Linked DNA regions of Homo sapiens. The protein of the gene in region 1 interacts with the protein of each later gene in a biochemical or structural test. Each region holds a gene or a part of one and is shown on either strand. Other genes may lie near its edges. The genes, in order: DMP1 and CCND2.

Evidence for each region.
Region 2: the proteins of DMP1 (region 1) and CCND2 form a complex in vitro, tested with the Homo sapiens proteins (one study listed by BioGRID).

The regions. Positions count from the first base shown.
Region 1 is NC_000004.12:87,644,350-87,653,875, forward strand, and holds the start of DMP1 (dentin matrix acidic phosphoprotein 1 isoform 1 precursor), read left to right. Parts: upstream 1-5,930; 5' UTR 5,931-6,035; intron 6,036-9,526. UniProt on the Homo sapiens protein: May have a dual function during osteoblast differentiation. In the nucleus of undifferentiated osteoblasts, unphosphorylated form acts as a transcriptional component for activation of osteoblast-specific genes like osteocalcin.
Region 2 is NC_000012.12:4,268,637-4,277,664, forward strand, and holds the start of CCND2 (G1/S-specific cyclin-D2), read left to right. Parts: upstream 1-5,125; 5' UTR 5,126-5,404; coding exon 5,405-5,599; intron 5,600-6,659; exon of another isoform or gene 6,660-6,841; intron 6,842-7,368; coding exon 7,369-7,584; intron 7,585-9,028. UniProt on the Homo sapiens protein: Regulatory component of the cyclin D2-CDK4 (DC) complex that phosphorylates and inhibits members of the retinoblastoma (RB) protein family including RB1 and regulates the cell-cycle during G(1)/S transition.

The DNA.
Region 1 (9,526 bases):
TGATCCGCCCGCCTCGGCCTTCCAAAGTGCTAGGATTACAGGTGTGAGCCATCATGCCTGGCTGTTTATTAGTTGGAATATGTATTAAGGTTCTCCAGAGAGACATGTACAGAGATATATATCAGGAGCCAACTCCAATAGGCCTCTACTGGCCAAAGATGGAACTATGTAATCTTTAAGATAGACAGTAATTGCAACAGACTGAAACCTATCAAATGATTTTAAATCTGTGAGTTCATAATAATATTACATAACCAACACCAAAACATACTCTAGTAACATAGACATATACAGATATACCCCTGTATATGTCTCTCTGGAGAACCCCGACTCTATATACATAGCTGTATACACAGCTATGCATATACACAGCTATGTATATAGAGTCAGGGGTTCTCCAGAGAGACATATACATAGGATATATATACACACACATAGGATAGGTATACACTATATATATATTGTATATACATAAGATATATATACACATATACATGTATATATCTATATATATTCATATATATTCCATGTGTATATATACATGTATGTATCTGTATATATCCATATATATTCCATGTGTATATTATAGGATATATACACACACACAGATATCCTATATATATAGGATATATTTATATACAGATACCCTATTTATATGTATTTATATATCCTATGTGTATTTATTTATATATTCTATTTATATAGGATATATGTGTGTATATACATCTGTGTATATATCCTATATAAATAAGATAAATAAATATATATAATAGGATATGTAAATATATATGTATAAATATGATATATATATCATATTAATTGATAAGGGACTTATTAGAGAAATTGGCTCATGTGATTATGGAGGCTGAGAAGTCCCACAGCATGCAGCCTGCAAGCTGGAGACCCCGTGATGAGGGTAGTGTGGCTCAGTCCAAGTCTGAAAGCCTCAGAACATGGGAAGCTGATGGTGTAACTCTCAGTCTGAGGCCCAAGGTCTGAGAACCTGGGTGTCAGGAGGAGTAGCCTGGTATAAATCCTGGAGCCTAAAGGCCATAGAAGCTGGAGTTGTGATGTCCAAGGGCAGGAGAAGAAGAATGTCTCAGCTCCAGGAGAGAGAGAGGAAATCATTTTTCTGCTTCCTTTTTTGTTCTATCGGGGTCTCCAGCAGACTGGATATTGCCTGTCCATACTAGGGGCAGATGCTTCTCACCAAGTCCACAGACTCACATGACAAGCTCCTCTAGAAACACCCTCACAGACATGCCCAGAAATAATGCTTTACCAGTTCTCTAGGTATTCTTTAATCCAGTCAAGTTGACACCTAAAATTAATCATCACACAATTCTTTTACAAAGATAAGCTTCCCCTCATGTCTAATTTGGTTTAGTTCATAGAGGTCTGCACAAATACCTCATTCTTTCCACTTACTTATAAGTTTTCAAGGTCATGAAGTGGCTTCCTGTTATCATCCCAAGGTGACCAATTAGTATTCTATTTCATTTTTGTAATATCATTATGAACTCAGAGATTTAAAATTATCTATTTTAAAGACTACATTGCTCCATCTTTGGCCAGTAGAGGCCTATTTGAGTTGGCTCCTGAGTCCTTTGACAGAATCTTAGTAATCTTTGATAGCTTTCCTGGAATCTGGGACGACAATATGTTCCAAACTCATCTTGCATATTTTGGGTCATAGACCTGGTATCAACCAATTTCCCAACAGGCCCCAGATGCTAGATCATAATCCGGGTTCTAGGGGTCCTAGCTATGACTGTGTTTTTAGGTCTCTATAGTGACAGAGCTAAGATATACATGTAGGATATGTGTGTGTGTGCGTGAGTGTGTCTTTATAATAATCCCTGAGTAAATTCTAATCTTTTCCATTTAAATTCAGGATTATAGGATTATGGAGTTCATTACTCTTTTTTTTTGAGACAGGGTCTCACTCTGTCACCCAGGCTGGAGTGCAGTGGTGTGATCATGGCTCACTGCAGCCTTGACTTCCTGGGCTCAAGCAATCCTCCTGTCTCAGCCTCCTGAGTAGCTGGGACTACAGGTGGGAGCCACCACGCCCAGCTAATTTTTTTGTACTGTTTGTAGAGATGAGGTTTCACCATGTTGCCCAAGCTGGTTTGGAACTCCTGGCTCAAGGTATCTGCTGGCCTCGGCCTCCCAAAGGGCTTTTGCTCTTTTGTATCAAATTTGTATCTCCTTTCTTTCACACTGAGAATCCTGATTCTCATGGATGCATTGGTTAAAGAAAGAGAATAATTCAAAATTACTAATATACTTTATTCCACATTATACATACAACATTCTCAGAATAACAATAATATTGCCATCACTAGTATAATTATTGAGAGCAGTTGAAATTATTTTTGCACATATGCTCTCCGTTCTCCCCACCTTTTTAAAAGCTGCACTATATCAATGCTAAGTATTTAGTTATTATATACCGTGCTGTCTCCCGTTTAGCCTCACTTAATTACATTTTTACAAGTAACTATATGTTTTATGTTTATCACCTGTTCTTACGACAATGCCTCTCTAGTTATTTTGGTTGACTGAAACTCTTTATCTAGTAGATTCCCCAGCAATGGTTTGAGAAAATAATATTCCTTGAATTCTTGCCTGTTGATAGCAGTTTGCTTTAGCCTCTCATACCTAAAAGTCAGTTTGCTGACTTATAAAATCCTTACTTCACATTTTCTTATCTTGAATGCATTAGGTATATTACCTTATTTTTCCTGGCATGAAGCATTACTGTCAAAGTCTTAATGATAATCTAATATCCCTTCCCTTATGAATCACTTGTTGCTTTTGCCTAGAAGCCCAAAGGACTTTACCTTCAAAGTTCAGTAATTTTATTAGAATATGTTTTGGTGTTGGTCATTTTGGGCCAATATTCTCAGGTACATGATATGCTCTTTAAATGAGAGTTTTTAATCTTCTTTTTTTAAATTCAGGGAAACTTCCTTCGATGATATGTTTGTTATTCGTTTGTTTTTTAGTACTTCTGCTGTTCTCTCACTTTTGTTATCTTCTTTAGGCCTCCTATAATCTACAATTTGGATGTTCTTTGCCAATCTTTAATATAATTCACTTTTTCCCAAATACTTTTTATTTATTTATTTTTTTAACTTTAAAATATTTCCCTCTTTTTTGCCTTCTACTTCCATTGAATAATTACCTATTATATTTATTCTCTTTTGTGTTCCCTCTAGATTAGTTTTCATTTCTAAAATAATTTTTTCTTTCATGCTAATATTTTCCTGAGTCCTGATATTTATTTTCTGAATTATTCTAGTTTCCATGTATTTTTTTCACCTATTGTGTCATTTTCTTGATACTTCTTTACTATTTTAAAAATAGAAGCTTAGGGTTTTAATTTATTATTTAATTATGTCTTTTAAGCATACTTTGTCTATCAGGTTGTTATTCTGCTCCTATGGGATTTAACCTTCATAGTTTTTTGCTGTTTGTTTTATATGAAAGTGGTTTTCCTGTACTTTTAGAAAGAAATGTGGTTCAGGGTAACTTTCAAACTTCACACGGCTCCCTCTTCTGTTGCTTTCGTGTTATGTTAAAAAAAAATAGCAGCTTTCTAAGATTTCTTGGATCCATTCCCCTCTCCCATATTTATCTGTGTCTTCTCTATTGTCTATATCCTGTGCAATTTTTATTCCACTCCCAGAAGTTTCTCCTGTATGTGAGTCTGTCTTAGAAAGCAGCTGTAGTGGCTTAGAATCCTTAGGGGCTAGACTGGTCTAGATCCTTCAGCTGTGCTATGAACCATTGGCACCCATCAGCAATAATTCTTGACTGCTTTGGGTTCTGCTGTTCTCATGTTCATCAGATTTCCTGCTGCTTTCCTCCGCTCACTCCTGCATAGACTCTCTAGGTCTTGTGGCAGTTGTGGACTTTGTCCTTAGTCACCTTGGAGTTAGTGGATATAACTTGTCATAAGGGGTGGTAACTAATCAAAAACTACCTCAACGTTTCCTCTGCTCCCTATACATGTGCATCCTGATCTGACACCAAAAGGTAGAGAGTATTTCTCCTTATGAATCTGAGATCTCCTTGTGATTGATTGACCAACAGAATATGGAAAAATGATATTCTAGGAACTCTTGGCCCCCAGCCTTCAGGTTGTGAGAAGGCCAAGCCAAGGAGAGGCCATGTAAAGAACTAAAGTGCTCAGAATTACAGCTCCAGCTGAGCTCTCAGGTAACAACTATGAAAGTGGCATCTGAAATGTTCTGCCCCAACTGAGTCTTCAGATGACTACAATGCTAGCTGTGAGAGATAAGAAAATGGTAGTTGTTTTAAAATGCAAAGTATTGAAGTGGTTTTTGATATAGCAATAGATAACAAAAATGCCTAGTTTTATTGTAAATGTTATCCACAGTTTTCAATTTTGTTATCTAATTGCTCCTCTGTTTTTATGTAGGGATTTGAAGAGAGTCTAAAATAATGTCTTGTAATGCAATCTGCCCAAATCTGCCCAGAATCCAATTCTGTCATAAGATTATAAGGTTCTTCTAGCATAGATCTCAGTTAAGACCCATGAAACCATCAGAGAGTGTAATTCAGAACCAGAGCAAATCACAGGGAATTTATAGCTTCCCCATATGGACTTTGGCTTTCTAATCAACCCTAAATGAAAATAGACATCTCTTTCCTCATTGTCTGCACCACCCTCCCCCGCATATTATAGTTCACACTAAATATGTTGATAATCCATATATCTGACATTAGTTGCCTGAATAAATTGGGCACTCTAATTTTCTAGATCCATGTTAGGAGCATCAGCTCAATTTTTTTTTTAACAATTAAAGCATTTTTTTAAAAGTTACAGTGAGTTATGCAGATACTGTAATCAAGTTAATAGTTTGGCTAATTTTCAAGCCAATCCACTCAGTCATTCAAAGAGTACTGAGTGATTATTAAGAACTGTTCTAGGTATCCAGGCACTGATTATAGATCAGTAGACAAGCAAACATCCCTACTCTTAAGGAAATTAAGGTCCAGCAGCTGATATTCTCTAAATTCTTGTTCAGTGGCCATCCTGCCGTCACTTGAACACGCTCCTGGGAAATTGCCAAACCCATTTCCAGCTCCCTACAACTTTTAGTACGCTTCCTCGAAAATGTTTTGGTAAATATCATTTTATCCATTTCATTACATTTTCAGTGGTGGCACAGAGTCCCTTCAAGATTAGTTTCCTTGGATGCTACCCAGCTAGTATTCCCCTTAATCCAATTCTGATTTCAAAGAATCATTAAAATGTGGCAAACAGGGAATGATTAAGTGTTAAGTGTTAGATCTAAATTTCTTGAATAACACAATAGCTACTTAAGGGGGGTACTTTAGTGGACGCTTTATTAGATTAGTAGGAGTTTGGGAACTTTGTGTGTATATGGGGGTGGGGAGATGAGAGGAAAAGGAGGTGAGTAGTAGAGGTTGTTAAAAGAGGAAAAAGGAAGAAATAAAAGCCCATATTCTCAAAACCAACAATTTAAGGAACTCTAGTATTTTAGTAGCTTTCTCCATGTACAACCTGGAAATGTACATTAACAGGAAACTTTCTACCCACCCCTGCCTCCGCCTTTCCCATCCTTGGGTCTGCTGGGATCTGTCGGTGGGTAGAAGACATTGTCATTGTTCATAAGACTGCCTGAATGTGAATGACATATATTTAGAAATCAAAATAAAGTTTTGGGAAGATCTTCAATTTAATGGAAACTAGTCTAGTCATTTGGGAACCACAAGAGCTTTTTAGGGAAAATGTGCCTCTGCCAGCTGGAGGAAGTGTGGGTGTACCGGGGTCCCGGTGACACCTTGTGATGTCAGTCACCCCCAGCCTGAGGTTGATTGGCTATGAAGAGCTGCAGCAGAGTTTAAATTCCTGCACCATCAGAGAAGTGTCCAGAATATCAACACAAGAGTGGCTTCATTGGGCATAGATTTCCTCTTTGAGAACATCAACCTGATTTTTGAGACTTTTTGAAAAAATTCTTTGTGAACTACGGAGGGTAAGTCATTTTCATCATTTAATTTTTTAAAATGACTTTTGCTGGTTGTTTGGAAAATATTAAATATGTATACATGTTTGAGGCATTATACCATGTAGAGAGAGATGGGAGAGCTGCGCTTTGGGTAAAAACAGTTCCTATTTTTGTGCCTGTTGTTTATGCCACAGTAAATAATGATATGAAAATGACATGTTAAGACAATACAGCCAGGTGTTTTTCTTGGTAATGCTTTAATTAGATCTCTGCATGACACTTCTAAAAGGGATAGTTTATAGAACAGGAGGCAGATGGAAGGTCATTTTGAAATTTAGTTTTAATTAGCAAAACGTATAAAACTTTTACAGTGTGTTTCATGAATAAGGGAATGTTTGCAACCTACAAGATTGTGAAAAAAAAGCTAAACTTATTGAATGGCAGGACTTTAAAAAGAATTTTTTTTAAATTAAAATGTTATTCATCTAGAGAGCATCTAGTAACATTTATTATGAACTGCATAAGTAACTAAAAGATGATTAAACTACTGAAATAACTGAGGGTGTGATAATTATGTTTTTTGTATTCATGTTAGCATGATGCCTTGAATACAGTTAGAATTCAATAAATGTTGAATATAATTATATTTTAAAATATTGCATTTTAAAACATATATTTTAAAATGTCCATATGTATTTTTATTTACTGTATTTAGTGCACTTCTTCATCTGTGTGACGTTTAGAAGAGTCCATGTGTTTTAGCAACTTGTCTTCCTTAAGAGCAGTAACTTGTGGTTAACCATACTTTCTGTTTAACTGAGGCTTGACTATCTTATTTTAACTTTGTTGTTTAAAAATGCGAACAAACTATTTTCTAAAGGGTATTAGTCCACTTACCTACCTGAAAATGGTGATGTAAAACAATGTGCCTCAGATGCTTAGAGGCCTTCCAAATCTATATTTAATTTTGGGGGCACCTCAGAGGTATATTCCTGTGATTAAAAGCATATAATATTGGATTCATCGTAATTGACCTGAAGACACATACAATAGGAAGAATTGGATTTTTTTTTGGTTTGTTTGTTTCTCTGGATTCCTGGTAGAGTTCATATCCTGGCCAAGTTTGATTCTATTTTCAAAGAGTAATAAGAAAACAAATTCTAGCAGGTTCTAGTTAGTTGGATTCTGGTTAATTTTATTATTATAAAACCAACTTATTTTATTATTATTGTTTATTATTATTAAAGTTTCCTGCTAATGTACATTTACAGGTTGTACATGGAGAAAGCTACCAAAATATTAGAGTTTCTTAAATTGTTGGTTTTGAGAATATGGGCTAGAAAAGTGCCTAACACATTGCATGTTCATAAATATTTACTGACTGCTAATGAATGAATGTATTGTTCAGTTGTGTTCTTGAAGATAACAATACTAAGACAAATAAAGCAAATTAATATGATGAATTGTTTTCCAAAAGAAAAAAGAGTCTATGACTTTTCAAACCTTTATTTTCTTCTTTTGGCCTATTTCCTTCATTTTGGTTTACATAAAAGAAGATATATATTTTACAAATGTATCTTAACCTTGAGAAAATGCTAGAACAAATTTCCTTACTTAAGAGCCGAAAGAAGTTTTGGCTACACACCTGAAATCTTGACTTTAGTTTCCCTCTCCACATTCTAAACATTTGGCTCTTTTCAACTCTATGAAAACAATTCACAGGGGCAGAAATTCTCTAATACACCGCCTTCCAAATGGATGGAACTCAAGTTGTTTATTTCCTTTTGTTACGTCATCTCACTGTAGAATGACAGCATGTAGAATGTAGAAATAACATTAACCAATCACTGAAGAAGAACTCAAAGTTCTGGACTTTTAATTGCAGGCTTGTAGCTGTGGTTCACATTTATTATTCAGAATATGGCTACTGCCTATCTGCTTCTACTCTTTTTTGAATAGTAGCCAAAATGTTTATAAAAGTTTGGAGCTCTTGTTTGGAAATGCACTTCACAAAATTATAATTATTTTTATCAGAAATACCAAATGCAAACCTAACAAGGGGTTTAAGATCTGATTTTCTTTAATGCTTACAGTTGGACTATATTTTTTGGGTGGCAACATCAGCTCTCTCAGAACTCTAGAGTGTCTTTTATTTTAGTTTACTAGACTTGCATCTGGGAAATTATTGCTTTAGGTCAGGATGCTAACGAGTATTTCTAGAATCCTGAGCAAGTTAGGGCATCTTTCTTGTGTTTTAGAATCTTCCATCCCTAAGAAACTTGAGCACTTGGGGCATGCACTTCTTTGTGAGAAAACACAACGTTCATTGGTTTAGAATAAATGCACAATGGCATCCCCAGTTTTCTAATTATTTAGATTAGAGAAGCTAAAGAAAATACAAGAGAATTCAATAGTCATTGACCTTCTGTCAAGGCTCTAACATTTGCTAGCTTTCAGAGAATCATGAAATTATAACCCTATTCAAATTTCACTTTGAAAATTAAAATGATGAGGTAACTTTCATTTGATCTGTGAAACTGAAAGCATTGAAAGGGTTATTTTGAGAATATCATATTTGAGAAAATTTTGCTTTCCTGAAGAAATAAACCTAACACATTTTTTAAAAAGTTTTGATTGTGGTATCTAAAGAGAAGTAACATCTATTAAATTAAGCTTGATTTTGGTATAGTTAAGCATTTTCATATGTTTTTCTCTGTTGATATTAATTGAAGGATTTTTAAAAGAAATTAAGATAGTATCAAACATAAGGACTGATATACACTATGCGAATTAGAATAAAGAAAGTAGCACAAATTAAGAATAACTATGCTGAGGAGAGATAATGCCCATAATATACATGAGAGGTTGTTTGACCATTTGAGTTGTGTGAAAGCAGAAATGAGAAGCCTGTTCAGGCTCCTTATCTTAGGATTTCTATTATTTTATTGAATACATTAAAAATAAGATTAGATGACTTCTTGAGCCCAATGTTTCAGACAATATTCAGCATATTCAGGCATTATCGAGTGATATATATATATATATATATATATATATATATATATATATATATATACTTTTTTTTTGAGATAGGGTCTTGCTCTGTCACCCAAACAGGTGTGGAGTGGCACGATCATGGCTCAGTGCAGCTTCAACCTCCCTGGCTCAAAGAATTCTCCCCACTCAGCCTCCTGAGTAGCTGGGACTACAGGCACGTGCCACCAAGCCTGGTTAATTATGATATTTTTAATTCTTAGATCAAGTGTTAAAATCTCTTGTGGAACTTTAAAAACAAACCTATTCCTGTGCCCACCCAAGTGAATGGATTTATTGCCCTGGGATGGGATTTGTGCATTGGCATTTTTAAAACTCTTCCCAGTTGATAGTAATATATATTTAGGGTTGAGAATCTTTGGCTTTTAACTCCTATCATTATTTTAGGGGCCAAGGGAAAACTTCCCCCTCACCCTCTGAAGGTTTGCTGAAAATCAACTGACAAAATATAGATTAATAGGAGA
Region 2 (9,028 bases), on another chromosome or scaffold:
GAAGGTGCGTGGGCTCACTCTGCAGCTGCAGTTTTCAGCCCTTGCAGTTTAGAAGATTCTGCATGAGCACGGATGCCACGAGGGTATCCAGCGAGTGGGAAGGGAGTCGCCCTACATGTTTTCACATCGATTTGTAAAACTGTTTTGAAAGGGTATTTCTAGATCCATTTGTTCCAAATGCAGCAAAATTCATCCGATATCGCTCACAATGCATGCACGGGTTATCTTACATGTAATAGCCATCGTATTAACCAACCCAGCTGATACTGAGATGGTGAATGGGGCGGGGGAGCAGGGAGGAATATGTCGCGCATGAAAAACTCCGGGTGTAAAAGTCAATGCAGAACTCACTCCCCGAGGAACCGAAAAAGACATTCACGACTCTCAAGTGGAGAGAGGATAGAAAGTCAAGTGGCGGGGGTCGCGACCAGTGATCGGGATTTCAGTCTGATCTCAGTACCCAGCGGAACAGGACCATAACCTAAAGAAATGAGCTTTTTCCGGAGCAAAGAGCGGCCCCGATTTCAAAGTAGAAAAAATAAACTGCTTGGGGGTGGAAGATGGCGAGGGGCGGGGGGCGGGGAGGGAGGCGGGTCGCGGCGCTGGCTCCGGGGTCCGCGGCACGGCCTCCTCTGCCGCGCTGCCCAGGGCCCGGACCCTGCCCGGCGCTGCGCCCACCGCGAGGGTGCCAGACCCGCCGCGCCGCCGCCGCGCTCTCCCAGCCGCGGCCCCCTCCCCCGCCGCTTCCTCTTGCTCTCCCAGCCCCTTCCCCCACGTGTGGATGACGTCAAAATTCCGCGAAAAAGCCGCGTGGTGGCTCCCCGAGCGGAGGCGCGATTCCGCCGCCCAGCGGCCCCCTCCCGGGGGCGCCTGGAGGGGGAGAAGGGCGGAGGCGGCCGGTTCCTTCTCCTCCCGGGAGGCAGGACCCCCCGACGCCGACCGCCGGACGCCCCCCGCCCCAAAGCTTATTGGAAAATTCACTTTTGTAAAGCAAATGTATTTCCAGAGCTATTTTCGGCCGCGTGAGGCGTGTCCTAAGCTGAATCAGACAGGAAGAGGGGGAAGTTCGGGTCTTTTAATTTTTTTTTTTTCCGAAGGGAGGGGAGTGAGATGCTAGGTGGGTGACAGACGGCAGGCGCTCGCCTTCTTAACTCACGCCTGTCGCATCTGCCGCCTCAGTAATCCAGCCCCGTCCAAGCCGAAATTCGCCGAAGGGAGTGCGGATGCACAGGCCTGGCGGACTCTGCCCCCCTCCAGAACGCAGCGGCCCAGCGCCCCGGCGGGCGCGGCTGCGACCAGAGGGTCCCGGAAGCGAGTGAACACCTGCAATCGCACTGCCCGTCCCCACCCACCCTGCTCCCCCGTGCTCTCCGCTTCCCGACGTTTTCCTCTTCTCCTTGTCCGCATTTTTCTACTTTGCCTGCACTCCCTCCTTCCTCTTGATGTGCCTCCTATGTGTCCCCTCGGATTTATGTGTCCCCTCGCATTTTGCCAGTCGGGTTTTCGGTTTTGATTGACCGTCCATCCCTCCACGGAGAAACACAAACACAGCTCCACTCTTTGGGGGAGCCGAGGGGAAGGCAGTGGCTCCCATTTCTGAGCCTGAACTCAGTCACTACCCGCTCCCCACCTGGCCTAGGCGCCCCTGCGCGGAGAAGGCGGGACTCGAACTCGCGCTGCTCCCGGGCCTTGAGCCGACCGCGGAATCACCTGGCTGGGAGGCATCCTCCAGGTAAGCTTGGGAGTATGTGTGCTTAGTGCTGCAGGCTCCTGCAGAAAAGTGCCTATAAACACCCAACACCCTGCTGCACCCTCCACCTCCAGGCTTTGTACACTTTCCAACCGAAACTCCAAAACGCTAGCGTAGAGGGTGGGGAGCCGGCCGGAAAAAGAATAAAAGTCCAATAAAACTGGCGTTCGCTAAAGTTTATCACCAGTCCTACATGGGATATATATATATGTATTTTTTTTTCCGTGAAGGGTGAAAAGGAGATAAGGAAGAACCAACAATCTACCCCCTCCCGCCGCCCCCCACCCCCGCGCCACGGTGATCAGTTTGGACTTCAAAGCCAGAGCACAGGCTCTTGCGCTTTTTCTTGAAACCGAAGTCTACACTGAAAGAAAGTGTGCACTTTTGCCTAGAAGGCAACATGCGTTTTCCCGCGTGCTAGGTGGAGTGCATTTTAACAAGACATTAGGGTTTTAACACATGGCTGGAGTGGCGACCAAAAGGGAAAACTCAGTTTCCAGTCCAAGCCTCCTAGAGACATTCCTGCCAACCTCCGCACCCTCTCACGCCCCACCCCACGTGTGAGAGTCTGCAAAACCACCGGGGATTGGATTCGATGGCGAGCTTCACGCTCGGGAACAGTCAGTAATCGGAAGGGGAAGTGGACAGGGGAACTTCAAGAGGCGAGCCTGCCACGCGGGAAGCGCCCGAACTTGCGGGTCTCCATGAATGCAGAGGGCGCCGGGAAGGGGGGGCATCCGGCCGCGACCCTCTCTGCCCCTCCCATTCGCTGCCCCCCTCCCCGCTGGAATTTCTCTGTAAAGCAAGACGGAGTAGGGGGAGGGGGAGAGGGAAGGGGCGAGAGGGCCCTCGGCTCACTCCCGAGACGTGAGGACTCGCCACCCAGGCATTCTCCTCGGGGTGGGCTGGGCCCCGGGACGACCACCCGCTTCTTCCTCGCCCCCGCTGCCCCCACTTCGGGAGACCCAGAGCTCTGGATGCCTTTCCCCGGAGAAGGGGGGGTGTGCGGAGTCGGGGTGGAAGAGACCTTGCTCGCAGAGCTATATCAAGTGATGTCCAGAGGCTGGGAGCCCCGGCGGCCTCTGTCCCTTGCCTGTCGGGTTAGATTTATACTTTAAAAATACCTCCCGCCCTCCCTCCTTCTCTCGCCTCTCCCCGCTGCAACTTTCTTTGATCCGCTCAAAGGTGGCTTAGGTGAAATTGGAGTAATTCCCTTATGGGGGTCTTAAAATGTAAGTGAATGTCCTTATCCGGGGTGACTCAAAAGCTTAAGTCGGGAAGCCCAACGTGACTAAAACCAATAGGTGATTGTTCGGGGCCGACTGTGTGCGGGTGTACACGGTATTCGGCCCGGGTGTCATCCGCGGCGCTGGACTGTTTCATTTTGAGTTTGCAACTTGGGTTTTTCAGCGAGCTTTTTTTCTTCCTGAAAGCTAATGGCTTCCACAGCAATTAGACATTTTCCTCGCCCGCCCCTTCCCTCCCCTTTCTTTACATATAGGAGATGGGATACTCATTCCCGCTGCTATTGATAAGGTCGGAGGCGGCCGGGCCTCTCCCCAGCTTTCGCCCGCCCCAGCGCCCGCTCTCCCTCCGCCCTCCCTTGGCTTCCTTTTGATGTAGTGGGGAACGCGTCCTACTAAAAAAAAAAAAAAAAAAAAAAAAAAAAAGTAATCTGCCCGGTAACAATCAGCGCGCAGTAGCAGGAGCCCCAGAGCTATTGGCTATGCAAATAGAGGGAGGGGAGACGGCGCCCCAAACTCTTCCTCACCCTTTTAAAGCGATATCCCCTCCTTTCCCCCCCACCACCCCTTCCGCCCCACCCTCGTTTAAAGAGGCTGGCTCCGGGGCCTGAGTTAATCGCTTGCACCTCTAGTTTATTCGCTCCCCTCCTCCGCCTTGCAGGGAACCTAGTGTACGGCTCACCCAGCCCGCGCCCCACCCCGCCTTGCTGGCTCTCCGCGCCCCTGCCCGGGCCCCCTCTCTCGGTGAGGGAGGCACTCAGTCGGCCTCGGTGTGCCCAGAGAGCTCGAGCCACGCCATGCCCGCTGCACGTGCCAGCTTGGCCAGCACATCAGGGCGCTGGTCTCTCCCCTTCCTCCTGGAGTGAAATACACCAAAGGGCGCGGTGGGGGTGGGGGGTGACGGGAGGAAGGAGGTGAAGAAACGCCACCAGATCGTATCTCCTGTAAAGACAGCCTTGACTCAAGCATGCGTTAGAGCACGTGTCAGGGCCGACCGTGCTGGCGGCGACTTCACCGCAGTCGGCTCCCAGGGAGAAAGCCTGGCGAGTGAGGCGCGAAACCGGAGGGGTCGGCGAGGATGCGGGCGAAGGACCGAGCGTGGAGGCCTCATGCCTCCGGGGAAAGGAAGGGGTGGTGGTGTTTGCGCAGGGGGAGCGAGGGGGAGCCGGACCTAATCCCTCACTCGCCCCCTCCCCCTCCCGGGCCATTTCCTAGAAAGCTGCATCGGTGTGGCCACGCTCAGCGCAGACACCTCGGGCGGCTTGTCAGCAGATGCAGGGGCGAGGAAGCGGGTTTTTCCTGCGTGGCCGCTGGCCGCGGGGGAACCGCTGGGAGCCCTGCCCCCGGCCTGCGGCGGCCCTAGACGCTGCACCGCGTCGCCCCACGGCGCCCGAAGAGCCCCCAGAAACACGATGGTTTCTGCTCGAGGATCACATTCTATCCCTCCAGAGAAGCACCCCCCTTCCTTCCTAATACCCACCTCTCCCTCCCTCTTCTTCCTCTGCACACACTCTGCAGGGGGGGGCAGAAGGGACGTTGTTCTGGTCCCTTTAATCGGGGCTTTCGAAACAGCTTCGAAGTTATCAGGAACACAGACTTCAGGGACATGACCTTTATCTCTGGGTATGCGAGGTTGCTATTTTCTAAAATCACCCCCTCCCTTATTTTTCACTTAAGGGACCTATTTCTAAATTGTCTGAGGTCACCCCATCTTCAGATAATCTACCCTACATTCCTGGATCTTAAATACAAGGGCAGGAGGATTAGGATCCGTTTTGAAGAAGCCAAAGTTGGAGGGTCGTATTTTGGCGTGCTACACCTACAGAATGAGTGAAATTAGAGGGCAGAAATAGGAGTCGGTAGTTTTTTGTGGGTTGCCCTGTCCGGGGCCCCTGGCATGCAGGGCTGGATGGAGGGAGAGGGGTGGGGGGTGGCGGGGGACCGCGTTTGAAGTTGGGTCGGGCCAGCTGCTGTTCTCCTTAATAACGAGAGGGGAAAAGGAGGGAGGGAGGGAGAGATTGAAAGGAGGAGGGGAGGACCGGGAGGGGAGGAAAGGGGAGGAGGAACCAGAGCGGGGAGCGCGGGGAGAGGGAGGAGAGCTAACTGCCCAGCCAGCTTGCGTCACCGCTTCAGAGCGGAGAAGAGCGAGCAGGGGAGAGCGAGACCAGTTTTAAGGGGAGGACCGGTGCGAGTGAGGCAGCCCCGAGGCTCTGCTCGCCCACCACCCAATCCTCGCCTCCCTTCTGCTCCACCTTCTCTCTCTGCCCTCACCTCTCCCCCGAAAACCCCCTATTTAGCCAAAGGAAGGAGGTCAGGGGAACGCTCTCCCCTCCCCTTCCAAAAAACAAAAACAGAAAAACCTTTTTCCAGGCCGGGGAAAGCAGGAGGGAGAGGGGCCGCCGGGCTGGCCATGGAGCTGCTGTGCCACGAGGTGGACCCGGTCCGCAGGGCCGTGCGGGACCGCAACCTGCTCCGAGACGACCGCGTCCTGCAGAACCTGCTCACCATCGAGGAGCGCTACCTTCCGCAGTGCTCCTACTTCAAGTGCGTGCAGAAGGACATCCAACCCTACATGCGCAGAATGGTGGCCACCTGGATGCTGGAGGTAGGTCGGGGGGTGGCGCTCGCCAGGAGCCAGGACCCCTCCGGATGCTCGGGTCCCCGGCCGGAGCCCTAAACCTGGGAGAGGGCAATCCCCGCGCCGGCCTCCCGGCTCCTGTGCGGGAGTTTACCGCGCGCCTTCTGGCGAGACGCGTGGCTTTATTTCTGTTCCTCTCCAGATAAACTGGGGAGGCAGAGGGGGGAGGAAAATCTGGGAGAAGCGAGGCTGTCCTGGGCGGGGGTAGGGGAGCATCCCGCGCGCGTGTTCCTGCATGTGGCTGCCTCTTCTTCCCACCCCCCTCGCGACCTGTCTTTTGCGAAGCCGCCGCGGCTGCTTGCGCTGCGGCCAGGAAGAGAGTCGGGGCCTGAAATCGGGACCCCGAGTAGAAAGGCAACCCCCCCCAAAAGGCCAGAGCAAATTCGTCTTGGCCTCAGGTCCCCGCCTGTGGTCGCGACTCCGCGCTGGCACTTCACCGGGGAGGTGGAGGGAGGAGGGAGAAGGAGAGAAACGGGGAATTCGGGAGCCCCGGAAGTCCCATTGAAGAAACGCGTGTTTCAGGGGAACCCAAAAGAACCGCTTCTTGCCCCTCACTCCAAGTCTTTGCCCAGCGAGCCGTGTGCCCACGTATGCACAGCTCTGGACCTGCCGTGGTTTCGCCATGTTGCTTTGCAAACTCCCTTTGGAAAGGCTGGGAAACGTCGCCCGCTTACCCTCGCACCCCATTATCCCGGCCACCCCACTTCTAATCGTGCCCTCTCCCCCACCCCCCACCTCACGAAGATTACTTACAGTTTGGTTTTCCAGCTTCCTCGGTGCGGAGATTTGGGTGGGGTAGGAAGGGGGGGAGGGGGTGTGTGTAGGGGGGATACCGGGTCACCCCTGAAGGAGAGGTGGGAGCCCCCCGTGCCTCTTTCCAGGGCTCTCTGCTCCCGTCTTTCCCCTCGCTCGTCACCGCGTTCCCTAGTTTCTGTCCTTGTGGGCCGCAGCCGGACACTCCCGCCGCGGCGCTCACCCCTTCAAGTTTCCTCCCGGGATCCAAAGCCCCAGGGGTCGGAATACAGACCTTTCTGGCACCCGAAACCTCTGTTTCGGGAAGCCTGGCTCTTCTTTGGGGTTTTCACGCCAAAAGGGCTTTTCTAGGATATTTCCTCGATTTTTAATTATTTTTTGAAACCATCCCCCCCTGCTCCGACTCCAGCTGCCGAGGCTGCGGCGCTCTTCCTCCTCTCCTCCCTCCCCCTCTCTTCCCCACCTCTCCTCACCCGCCCCCCCAAAAGCGGCCCCTGGGCCGCAGGGACCCCCCCAGACATTTTTTCCAATTGTCGGGAATGATAGAGGAGGATCTGGGGATCCGGATGAGACCAAGAAGTGGACCCCCGGAGCCTCCAGAATATTTTTATTGATTTTTTGAAAAGATGACGAAATCCAAAAAAGAGTGAGTGAGTTAGAGTGCGCGAAGGAGTAGCCAAAGGGAGCGTCGCGGAGCTGCCGCGGCTGCTGCGCACTTCTCCGACTCCCCGTTTTGGAGCTGTAGTTCACCCCCTTTTATAGGATCCCTGGGAATACCAAAGCACTGATGGGCTATTCTGATTCACTCCAGTTTCCTCATCTTTGTTCTTTATTCTTATCACGCATTCTGGTCCCCTCCCCCTCCCACAAAAAAAAATTAATTTTTTTTGTTTCGATAGATTACGCTTTTTTATTCTTTTTCTCTTTTGCTGATGCTATGCTCTCCACCCCCGCCCCCCAACCCTTTCCCACTCCCATTATAGGTCTGTGAGGAACAGAAGTGCGAAGAAGAGGTCTTCCCTCTGGCCATGAATTACCTGGACCGTTTCTTGGCTGGGGTCCCGACTCCGAAGTCCCATCTGCAACTCCTGGGTGCTGTCTGCATGTTCCTGGCCTCCAAACTCAAAGAGACCAGCCCGCTGACCGCGGAGAAGCTGTGCATTTACACCGACAACTCCATCAAGCCTCAGGAGCTGCTGGTAATGACCGGCCCCTTCCTCCCTTCCTTTCTGCGATTCCCGCTTTCCCCTGGCCAACAATATGCCTTCTATCACCACTGCCAGAGCAAATTCTTGGGATCCAGAATGACCCCACCAATAGAATTTACCCACTTATGGGCGATAGCTCATTTAATAGGAAACCACTGTTTATTTTTTGTGTGTTCCTACTATGTGCCCAGGCTCCGTGCCCAGCACTGAGGCTACATCTGTGAATAAGATCCTCATGGAGATTTGGGTTGGTGAGACTCATTTGCAATTGTGTATGCATGTGTGTAGGGGACGCATGGAATATTTTAATTAACAGTGATAATATTTTAATTAAATTCCAAATTTCCAAAAATAGTCTGAGAACGTGTTCACATGATAGGTATGTGGCTGTGGTGTCTCCTAAAAACTTGGAGTTCAAAGGTAATGCCCTCTATATCTACAAAGTCTCAAGATACCAACACATAATAGCTGTTCACTAAATATCAGTTCATTGACTTTTGAGCAAAGTCAAAATGTGGCCTTTCACTGAAGGAGTCCGAGGCCTGGGTTCCTACCTCCAGTGGGACTGTGACCTCTGTACAACCCCAGGGATCCTGTCTTATCTCTGCTTTTCTACCAGGGAACCTTTTTCCCACCTGATCTAACTCCTTTTCCCTGCAGCTTGACATATAAGACGACCATATTGCAGCTGTACCGCATGGAATAGCGGCTCCAAGGCCCACCTTCGGTGGTTTGCACACCCCTCTTTGCACTGTTCAGAAAAGCACCCCCTCCTTCCCGCCCCTCCCCCTCCTCACTGGTAGGGCCCGCACAAAGTCCACAGGGCTGAGGCTGGCTTCTTGAACTGAGCTCTTTGTGAGGAGCCTTCCTTTCTGGGGCTCTGCTGCCATCTAGTGGAAGACATGCACAAGGTTGGGGGAGGAATTGCCGAGAATGTGGAGAGGGGCCTGAATGACTTCACCTTTGAACCGCTGCCAGGTTTTAGCTGCTTCTGGTTTGGTCCGAGAGGCCTAGAAAGGTGCTTTCTTCTGGGAGATCTGCTTCCTTTAATAACGGTGCAAGACCAGTGGTTCGTACTCGCATTACCCTGTGAAGAGGAAGGGCTGGCATTTCAAGCCATCTTTGAAGATGATGGTGGTTTAGTAGTTTATTGGGGTGCTTTACCCCGGCTGTACACAGAAAGCCAAGGCAGATTTTAAAGCTTATGAAGAAAACATTGTTAGAATTGGGAACCAATTTGTTTTTCTCATGAGAGAGCAGGAAAAATCATCTTCATATGGTTCATTTGTTTCGAGAGGATGGTGAATTGAGATGTTCTTCAGGACACCCAAATCTTTCCAGGACTAGCCAAGCAATATATTGCTACAAACAAACTTGGCTTTTTCCTATTCCCTTTATCCCAGAAGTTGGGATTTGGAAGAGTCCTATTTTACAA